Linked DNA regions of Homo sapiens: region 2 is reported to be linked to region 1. The links are microRNA targets in miRTarBase. Many come from high-throughput screens and were not tested one by one. Region 1 holds a microRNA gene; the other region holds the end of a gene's coding sequence.
What was found. The annotated mature microRNA hsa-miR-19b-3p reads UGUGCAAAUCCAUGCAAAACUGA and lies in region 1 at 3,051-3,073, shown strand. An mRNA with a match to its seed (bases 2 to 7 or 8) in the 3' UTR can be bound and repressed. Matches are read on the target gene's strand: a 7mer-m8 pairs with bases 2 to 8, a 7mer-A1 pairs with bases 2 to 7 and ends in A, and an 8mer does both.

Region 1 (4,256 bases):
GGGGCGGCGTGCGCGTGGCGGCCGCGCCCGGGACCCGCGCAGACCCTGCCTGGGCCGACCCGAAGGCGGGTGGGCGGACGGCGAACACAATGGCCCCTCGGGGAGAGGACGTGCGAGGCCCGTGCCTTCTCCGGGGCCCGGGGCGCGCGCGGGGCGTGGGGTCTCTGGGTAGGAAAGTTTCTCCCGAGGGCGAGAGTTAAAGCGCCTCCAGAACAAAGCGGCGGCGGCGGCGGCACATGGGGCAGGCCGCGGGCCGGGAGGGGGCGCGCCCACGAGGTACCTGCGCGCCAGCGGGCGGCGTGGCGTGGGCGGGAGCCCGCGGTTCCCCAAACTTTGTACGCGCGAGGGTGGGCGGAGGGGCGCCGAGATCGGCGCGGCCTGGGCGCCACCCCCGCTCCGCGTGGGCTTTGTTAGCCCGCGTGGGCAGCCTCGGGGCGGGGCCCGCAACTTCCCCGCCGTGGCCCTCGGAGGAGGCCGCAGTCGGCCTCAGCCGCGGCGTGGAGCCGCCTGCGCCCGGCCGCTTGCTGGGAGTGTGGCGCGGGAGGGCCAGCCCGGCTCGGCGGGAGCGGCGTCCCCGCCGCCATGTTCCTGCGGGGCGGGCTGCACGGGGGTGAGGGCGGGGGACATGGCGGCGACTGCGCGCCGCCGCCGATTGTTCCCGGCTTAGGCCTCGGGCCGCGTGCGACGGGCACCGCGGCCGCGGAGCCCCCGCCCCTCTGGGCCGGGCTCGGGGGGGCTGGGGGACACAAAGGAGGGGCGGCGCGCCCGCGTCCCCGCCGCACTCGGGCCTCGGCGCCGCCGGTCGCCGCGCGGCTGCCGCCGGGAAACGGGTTGGGGGGGTTGCCGCGTCCGGCGGGGCCTGACTCTGACCCGCCGCCCCCTGGCGGCTACGCGGAGAATCGCAGGGCCGCGCTCCCCCTTGTGCGACATGTGCTGCCGGCCCGGGCTCCATGAGCGTGGCGGGCACTTTGCAGTCTCGGGTGTTCCTGCCCGGTCTTCTGTTCCTAAACTGCAGCAAAGGGAAAAGGAACTGAAAAAGGCAGGCTCGTCGTTGCAATATCACCAAAAGAGAAAATTAACGGCATGCCATCAGGACCACAGCAGTTGGAGAAACAACTCTTTATCCCGGCTTGCAGCCACGAGGTCTTGATTGGGGGAGGGGTGGTGAAGAATAGTCTGTGGGCTGCTTTTTTTTTTTCCTTTTACTGGAGCTGTACAGTGGAGTCGGTGATTGCTGCTGATCATAATCAAGTATTTTAGGAGCTTATTTAGACATGTATCTGATAGCTAAGGATTTTTCAACTTTATTCTCTTACGTATTTTTCAACTGTAAATTATTGGGCTTTTAAATCCTGCTAGTATTGCTCGACTCTTACTCTCACAAATGGATGGAATTAATTGCTGTTAGGAGGTTGGAAAATAGCAAATATAGATTTGGACGGTGGTAGTAATTTTGAGCAAATAATGTTTTATCTTTTTTTTCCTTATTTTTCCCTATTCCAGTCATACACGTGGACCTAACTGCACCAGTAGCTTTTCTGAGAATACTTGCTGAAAAGGAAGTTTTCTGGAATGGGTAAGTGTATTCTGATTTTCTTGAACTTTTCTTAAAAACAAATTTTTCTTGCTATTAAAGTTGAATAAATAGGATTGGTTTCTTAGAGAGTAAAAGTAGGTGTTTCTTTCTTTAGACAATGTACCTTTTCTGAAAAACTAACTCATTAAGTACGGATTTGCTAATTTTAAGGTAGTAAAATTACAGTGTAAATATTCCTGTACATTTTTGGAAACTGGCTTATGCAGTTTACGAAATATAATTTTAGACCCTCTTTTAAGTTGGGTGATAAAGTAGATATAACCTGAGATGATAGATTTAAACAGGATATTTACGTTCTGCTACAATTGACTGATAACACTTGAAGTGTAGTCTGAACAGTAATTTTGTTAATCATTTCAACAAGTATTTGCTAAGTGGAAGCCAGAAGAGGAGGAAAATGTTTTGCCACGTGGATGTGAAGATTTCCTCTAAAAGGTACACATGGACTAAATTGCCTTTAAATGTTCCAAAATTAGTTCTCATTTATTTGCAGTCTCATTTTGTTTTGTTTTTTTTCTCTATGTGTCAATCCATTTGGGAGAGGCCAGCCATTGGAAGAGCCACCACTTCCAGTGCTAGTTGGATGGTTGGTTATGATTGCCTTCTGTAAAGAATTCTTAAGGCATAAATACGTGTCTAAATGGACCTCATATCTTTGAGATAATTAAACTAATTTTTTCTTCCCCATTAGGGATTATGCTGAATTTGTATGGTTTATAGTTGTTAGAGTTTGAGGTGTTAATTCTAATTATCTATTTCAAATTTAGCAGGAAAAAAGAGAACATCACCTTGTAAAACTGAAGATTGTGACCAGTCAGAATAATGTCAAAGTGCTTACAGTGCAGGTAGTGATATGTGCATCTACTGCAGTGAAGGCACTTGTAGCATTATGGTGACAGCTGCCTCGGGAAGCCAAGTTGGGCTTTAAAGTGCAGGGCCTGCTGATGTTGAGTGCTTTTTGTTCTAAGGTGCATCTAGTGCAGATAGTGAAGTAGATTAGCATCTACTGCCCTAAGTGCTCCTTCTGGCATAAGAAGTTATGTATTCATCCAATAATTCAAGCCAAGCAAGTATATAGGTGTTTTAATAGTTTTTGTTTGCAGTCCTCTGTTAGTTTTGCATAGTTGCACTACAAGAAGAATGTAGTTGTGCAAATCTATGCAAAACTGATGGTGGCCTGCTATTTCCTTCAAATGAATGATTTTTACTAATTTTGTGTACTTTTATTGTGTCGATGTAGAATCTGCCTGGTCTATCTGATGTGACAGCTTCTGTAGCACTAAAGTGCTTATAGTGCAGGTAGTGTTTAGTTATCTACTGCATTATGAGCACTTAAAGTACTGCTAGCTGTAGAACTCCAGCTTCGGCCTGTCGCCCAATCAAACTGTCCTGTTACTGAACACTGTTCTATGGTTAGTTTTGCAGGTTTGCATCCAGCTGTGTGATATTCTGCTGTGCAAATCCATGCAAAACTGACTGTGGTAGTGAAAAGTCTGTAGAAAAGTAAGGGAAACTCAAACCCCTTTCTACACAGGTTGGGATCGGTTGCAATGCTGTGTTTCTGTATGGTATTGCACTTGTCCCGGCCTGTTGAGTTTGGTGGGGATTGTGACCAGAAGATTTTGAAAATTAAATATTACTGAAGATTTCGACTTCCACTGTTAAATGTACAAGATACATGAAATATTAAAGAAAATGTGTAACTTTTTGTGTAAATACATCTTGTCTTGTTTTCATTCAAAAACATTTCACTTTTGGGGTTGCGTGTCAGATTTGGCAGTATAAATTCTGGCTATATTTTTTGTTGTTAGATTTATTTGGCTGTTAAGTATTGCGATATGACTAAACATACTGTATACCTGATGATCATCTGTAAAGTTAGAGTATATCTTTTTGCTTTCTTTGGAGTTAGTGTTATTCCAGGATATTTTACTTAATCTAAAAGTTAATTTATGTTGCTCATATATTACTCAAGTATTTAAATTTAGAGAGAATGCCGCTCTGTTTAAAGCAATGTGTAAAGATGAGTTTTTTTAAGCATGGAATTTAGGGTTGGGGTACAATTTGTTTCTATTAAGCAAGTACCAGTTTACCAATACATGAGTAACTGAAGTGTAACTGTTAAATGCTTGTATACTAGTTTTTCTTTCTGATTGTCAGTGATTTATAAGCTATAAATGACCAAGGTCCTCAGACTGCTTTTAGCATCTGCAACTTAAAAAAATGGGAGTTAGAAAAAGAACAAATGCTAAATAGAGTAACAGTTAAATGTATGTGTACACTCTTCCCAAATGCCAAGAGTGCAGCGGTGGGGTGAGATTCAGATATTCATTTATTTCTAAGTCTGTAGTTAACATTTATGTTCCCTACTCCCTACGTAAGCCAGACTTTGGCAACAGTGATAGTTGATTCCAGGCTTATTTGACTTAAAGTCACTGAAGTGGAAACTAAGAAGTGGCAGTTAGTGTTTTACCCAGCATTTCTGCCTTCTCTCTTTTCTTCATGTGTTTTTGTCTCTAGCCTATGTGTATTTGTGTAGAATAATGTGGGATACCTGAATAATAGATTTAAAAGGACCAAGTGGTAAAATTGGGCCCAAGCTGAAGTACAGGCAAACTTGATGTTTGAAAGATAAGTTTTGAGAAATGTCATTGTATTT
Region 2 (4,256 bases), not on the chromosome of region 1:
GCCTCAGCTTCCCAAGTAGCTGGGACTACAGGCGCGTGCCACCACGCCCAGCTAATTTTTTGTATTTTTAGTAGAGACGGGGTTTCACCATGTTAGCCAGGATGGTCTCGATCTCCTGACCTTGTGATCCACCCGCCTAGGCCTCCCAAAGTATCGGGATTACAGGCACAAGCAACCGCGTGTGGCCCATTTTTTTTTTAATAGAGATGGTGTTTCCCTGTGTTGTCCAGGCTGGTCTTGAACTCCTGAGCTCAAGTGATCCACCACCTCGGCCTCCCAAAGTGCTGCATTACAGGCATGAGCCACTGTGCCTGGCCAGGAAGTCTTGATTCTGAAGATTTTTCAGAGCACTTACTGACATTTCTATCCTCCATCTTTATGTCCCAAATTTGCTTCCAGAGAGGTACAGGCAGTTGAAGGAAAGAAGCTGGCAGAGTCCTGGGGTGCGACATTTATGGAGTCATCTGCTCGAGAGAATCAGGTGCTGGGCCTGAAGACTAGAAGGGTGGTGATGGTAGCTGTGTTTTCCTTATTGTACTGCTTGGTGGTGGGAATGTTGCGGGAATGGGGCTTTCACCCCAGAGCTGGGTGGTATTGGCACTGAACTGACTTTTGCCCTGAATCCTCTCCTCTTATAGCTGACTCAAGGCATCTTCACCAAAGTCATCCAGGAGATTGCCCGTGTGGAGAATTCCTATGGGCAAGAGCGTCGCTGCCATCTCATGTGAGCCCTTGGGTGTGGGGTAACTGCCTTGCTTCTGCCCCCGGCACTTGCCATGTTCCAGTGGGGGGCAGATCCTCAGGACTTCACGGGTATGGTTGCCAGCTGTGTTCCTGGCCCCTGGACACACAGTGTGGCATCCTCATGTTTGCACACTTTCCCCAGGCTCCAGTGGCCTGGATGTCAATGTTTACAAAGGGGCAAGGACCTCTCATGGACACTGGCCTCTAGCCCTCTGTTTTTGTTTGATGAATTCTGTTATAACCTATGGGGTCAGGATATGAGTCCTGGGCATTATTTATCCAGGACCCATCCTCTTGGGTGGGTTTTGGGTGTTGGCTGGGTAAGGGGAGCCGGGGACTTCTGAAATAGAGCTGGCTCCCTGGGGTGACAATGTATATATGCAAATAAATTGAGAAATCTTTTGTTGTTGACTTCTTTTTCGTGTGTGTGTGTGAGACGGAGTTTCACTCTGTTGCCCAGGCTGGAGTGGTGCAGTGCTGCAATCTTGGCTCGCTGCAACCTCCGCCTCCCAGGTTCAAGCAGTTCTCCTGCCTCAGTCTTCTGCAGGCACCCGCCACCATGCCTAGCTAACTTTTTTATTTTTAGTAGAGATGAGGTTTCACCTAGGCCAGGATGGTCTCGAACTCCTGACCTTAAGTGATCCACCCACCTCAGCCTCCCAAAGTGCTGGGATTACAGGCGTGAGCCACTGCCCCCGGCCTTATTTTATTGTTGACTTCTATGTATCTAGTGAGAGCTCAGAGCCAAGATCTCTTTTTCCAAGGAGTGATGGCTGTGGTCTTTGGTGGGATATCTTTCCTCCTACCTTGTTCCTATTCCTTATTCCTCACTTATTAAGGACCATTATCCTAAGATTTACTACTTGCCTTTCCCACCTTTCTATTCTGCTGGGTTCCTCATATACTAAGTCCAGTTGGCTGCCACTCCCATCCAAGTTTTGTAGCCTTTCAAGATCCCCTTAATTACAGAAACACCACCCTCTAGTGGCCAACTGCAACATGCTGACCTAGCTGTCTTCCTGGGGCCTCGGCATTTGCTTGGATTCAAAGATGATGGGGTTTCAGGAGAAGAAAGGAAGCCCCTCATTCCTAATGATGTAAGAATTGAGAAGGAGTGTAGAGGCAGAGACTAAAGTGTTGTGAAGACTTTGACTTCCCAAGAGTGTTGAGTAAAGTAAGAAATAATGCCTCCGGTGCATATCAGTCCCCTGGCCCTCCATGTCCCCAGTGTCTTCCATTAAAATGGCCGTTCTTTGCTGTTTTCATACCTTTAATCTTTTTGTACTTTTTACACCTTTGGTGGTGTGCTACTTTTTTTTAGGTGTCAAAGGCTATTGGTTCTGCTTTTATGGGCCTACCGCCTCAATGAATTGATATTTCAGCTAGGAAAGTTTGGTCCTGTTTGCCTCTGCTTTTCTTGATCCCCACCCTCCCACCAGCCTGATTGCCTAACTAGTCTAATACCTCCTCCAAGGATGTGTAAGGGTTATTTGAATGGTAGATCTTCACAGAGAAGGTACAGACCTCTTCTGACAACTGGGGGAGCCCGAGGTACCCTATCAATGTACTTACTTGGGAAGGATTGACAAAACCTAGATGTGATTTTTAGCTGTGACTTTGTCAGTGCCTGGCTCCAGGCTTACAGTTGGGGATATGGCTTGTCATGCTGATTTTCAAAAGTCCTGACAGCTGCTTTTGCTTTTCTGATCCAGAATCTAAAAAGAAATAAGGGCTGCTAGAAGAAACATACTCCAAACAACAATCTCACTGGCTTAGGAGGTTCTTCTGGTAGGTCACCACTGTCTCTCCTTATGTTAAAATTAAGTCTTTTTGCACATCTGACCTGGGATACTCATTACATGAGCCTACCTTCCTGCTGCCATTTTCATGAGGTCTGGGGTAGACTTAGAAACATCTAAAGTTTTCTAGTTTATCAATAATCTCAAGGCCTGGGGACAGTAGTGATAGTGGTTAATAGCTCCTCCACTTAGCTGTGTGGCCTTGGGCGGTCACTTAACTTCTCAGAGCCACCATTTCTCATTTATGAAGAGTGGCTAAGTGTGCTTCATAGAGTTGAGATGAAAATTAAACGAGGTAATATATGCAAAGCTTACTACAGTTCTTCACACATAATAAGTCCTTAAGAAATAGTGGGGTGGTGGCTGGGTGCAGTGGCTCACGCCTGTAATCCCAGCACTTTGGGAGACCAAAGCGGGTGGATCACCTGAGGTCAGGAGTTTGAGACCAGCCTGGCCAACGTGGTGAAACCCCATCTCTACTAAAAATAAATTAGCTGGGTGTGATGGTGGGCGCCTGTAATCCCAATTACTAGGGAGGCTGAGGCAGGATAATCGCTTGAACCTGGGAGGCGGAGGTTGCAGTGAGCCGAGATCGCGCCATTTCACTCCACCCTGGGCGACAAGAGCGAAACTCCATCTCAAAAAAAAAAAAAAAAAAACCAAAATAGTAGGTGGCTATCTGTGTTATTACTGGAGGTCTTTCTGGTGAGGGTCTACCTCTCCCTGCCTCTGGGTGCAAACCTGGGAGGGGCCTTCCATTTTCCAACTTGTTTCTTGGTTAACTTATTCTATTGTAATTAAAACAAGTGTGGGATCACTGCTGGAGTTTTTTTTGCTCAAATATGTGTGAATGGTCAGTGCAGAAAACATGATGCCAATGTGTGGCTGGAAGAGGACAAACCTAGTCCTGATCCCTCCTATTACTCTTACCAGTAGGGATTAAGGTCTCCTGCACTGTCTAATATAAAAGCATCACCTCACATGTGGCTATTTAATTTCATTAAAATAAAAAGTTCCTTACTTGTACCACCTGCATTTCAAAGTGCTCGAGAGCTGCATGTGGTTGATGGCTACCATATTAGATAGTGTAGATTTAGTCCATTTCCATCACTGTAGAAAAGTTCTGTTGGGACCGGGCGCGGTGGCGCATGCCTGTAATCCCAGTACTTTGGGAGACCAGGGCGAGCGGATCACGAGGTCAGGAGTTCGAGACCAGGCTGGCCAACATAGTGAAACCCTGTCTCTACTAAAAATACAAAAAAGTAGCCGGGTCTGGTGGTGTGCGCCTGTAATCCCGGCTACTAGGGAGGCTGAGGCAGGAGAATCGCGTGAACCAGGGAGGCGGAGGTTGCAGTGAGCCGAGATCGCACCACTGAACTCCAACCCGGACGACAGTGCGAGACTCTGTCTCAAAAAATAAAAAAAGTTCTCTTGGACAGCATCGTAAACCCTTTCCTCACAAAGCTGGCATTGGATCGAATCTGCCTGCCTCTTTCTCCACATCTTCTTTTAAAAAAACGTAGTATAATTATTTGTAATCCTAGGAAAAACGTGGCCTTTGGTTTGAATAATGGCTCAACTTCTCACTAGATGTAGTTCTGTGGGCAATTTTACCTATTGTAGCCTTAATCTTCATCTGTAATATGGAGATAATTCCATGTAACTCATAATGAAGGCGAGGAATAACTAAGAATATATAAAGTATCTGGACAT

Region 2: miRTarBase lists RHEBL1 as a target of hsa-miR-19b-3p. Seed matches in the 3' UTR shown: 8mer at 869-876.

What each region holds. Positions count from the first base shown.
Region 1 is chr13:91,348,195-91,352,450 of GRCh38, forward strand. MIR19B1 (microRNA 19b-1) reads left to right here and starts at 2,998; the gene lies at 2,998-3,084. MIR17HG (miR-17-92a-1 cluster host gene) reads left to right here. Exons shown (of 3, transcript NR_197388.1): 2 at 1,504-1,576; 3 at 1,962-4,256. MIR17 (microRNA 17) reads left to right here and starts at 2,411; the gene lies at 2,411-2,494. It overlaps MIR18A (microRNA 18a), which reads left to right and starts at 2,557; the gene lies at 2,557-2,627. It also overlaps MIR19A, MIR20A and MIR92A1. RefSeq lists a silencer at 1-981 and enhancers at 531-1,078, 1,079-1,626.
Region 2 is chr12:49,061,575-49,065,830 of GRCh38, reverse strand. It overlaps RHEBL1 (RHEB like 1), which reads left to right. Exons shown (of 8, transcript NM_144593.3): 7 at 400-481; 8 at 639-1,155. The coding sequence ends at 728. Among named protein-coding and RNA genes, the nearest start is that of KMT2D, 2.9 kb to the right of the region's middle.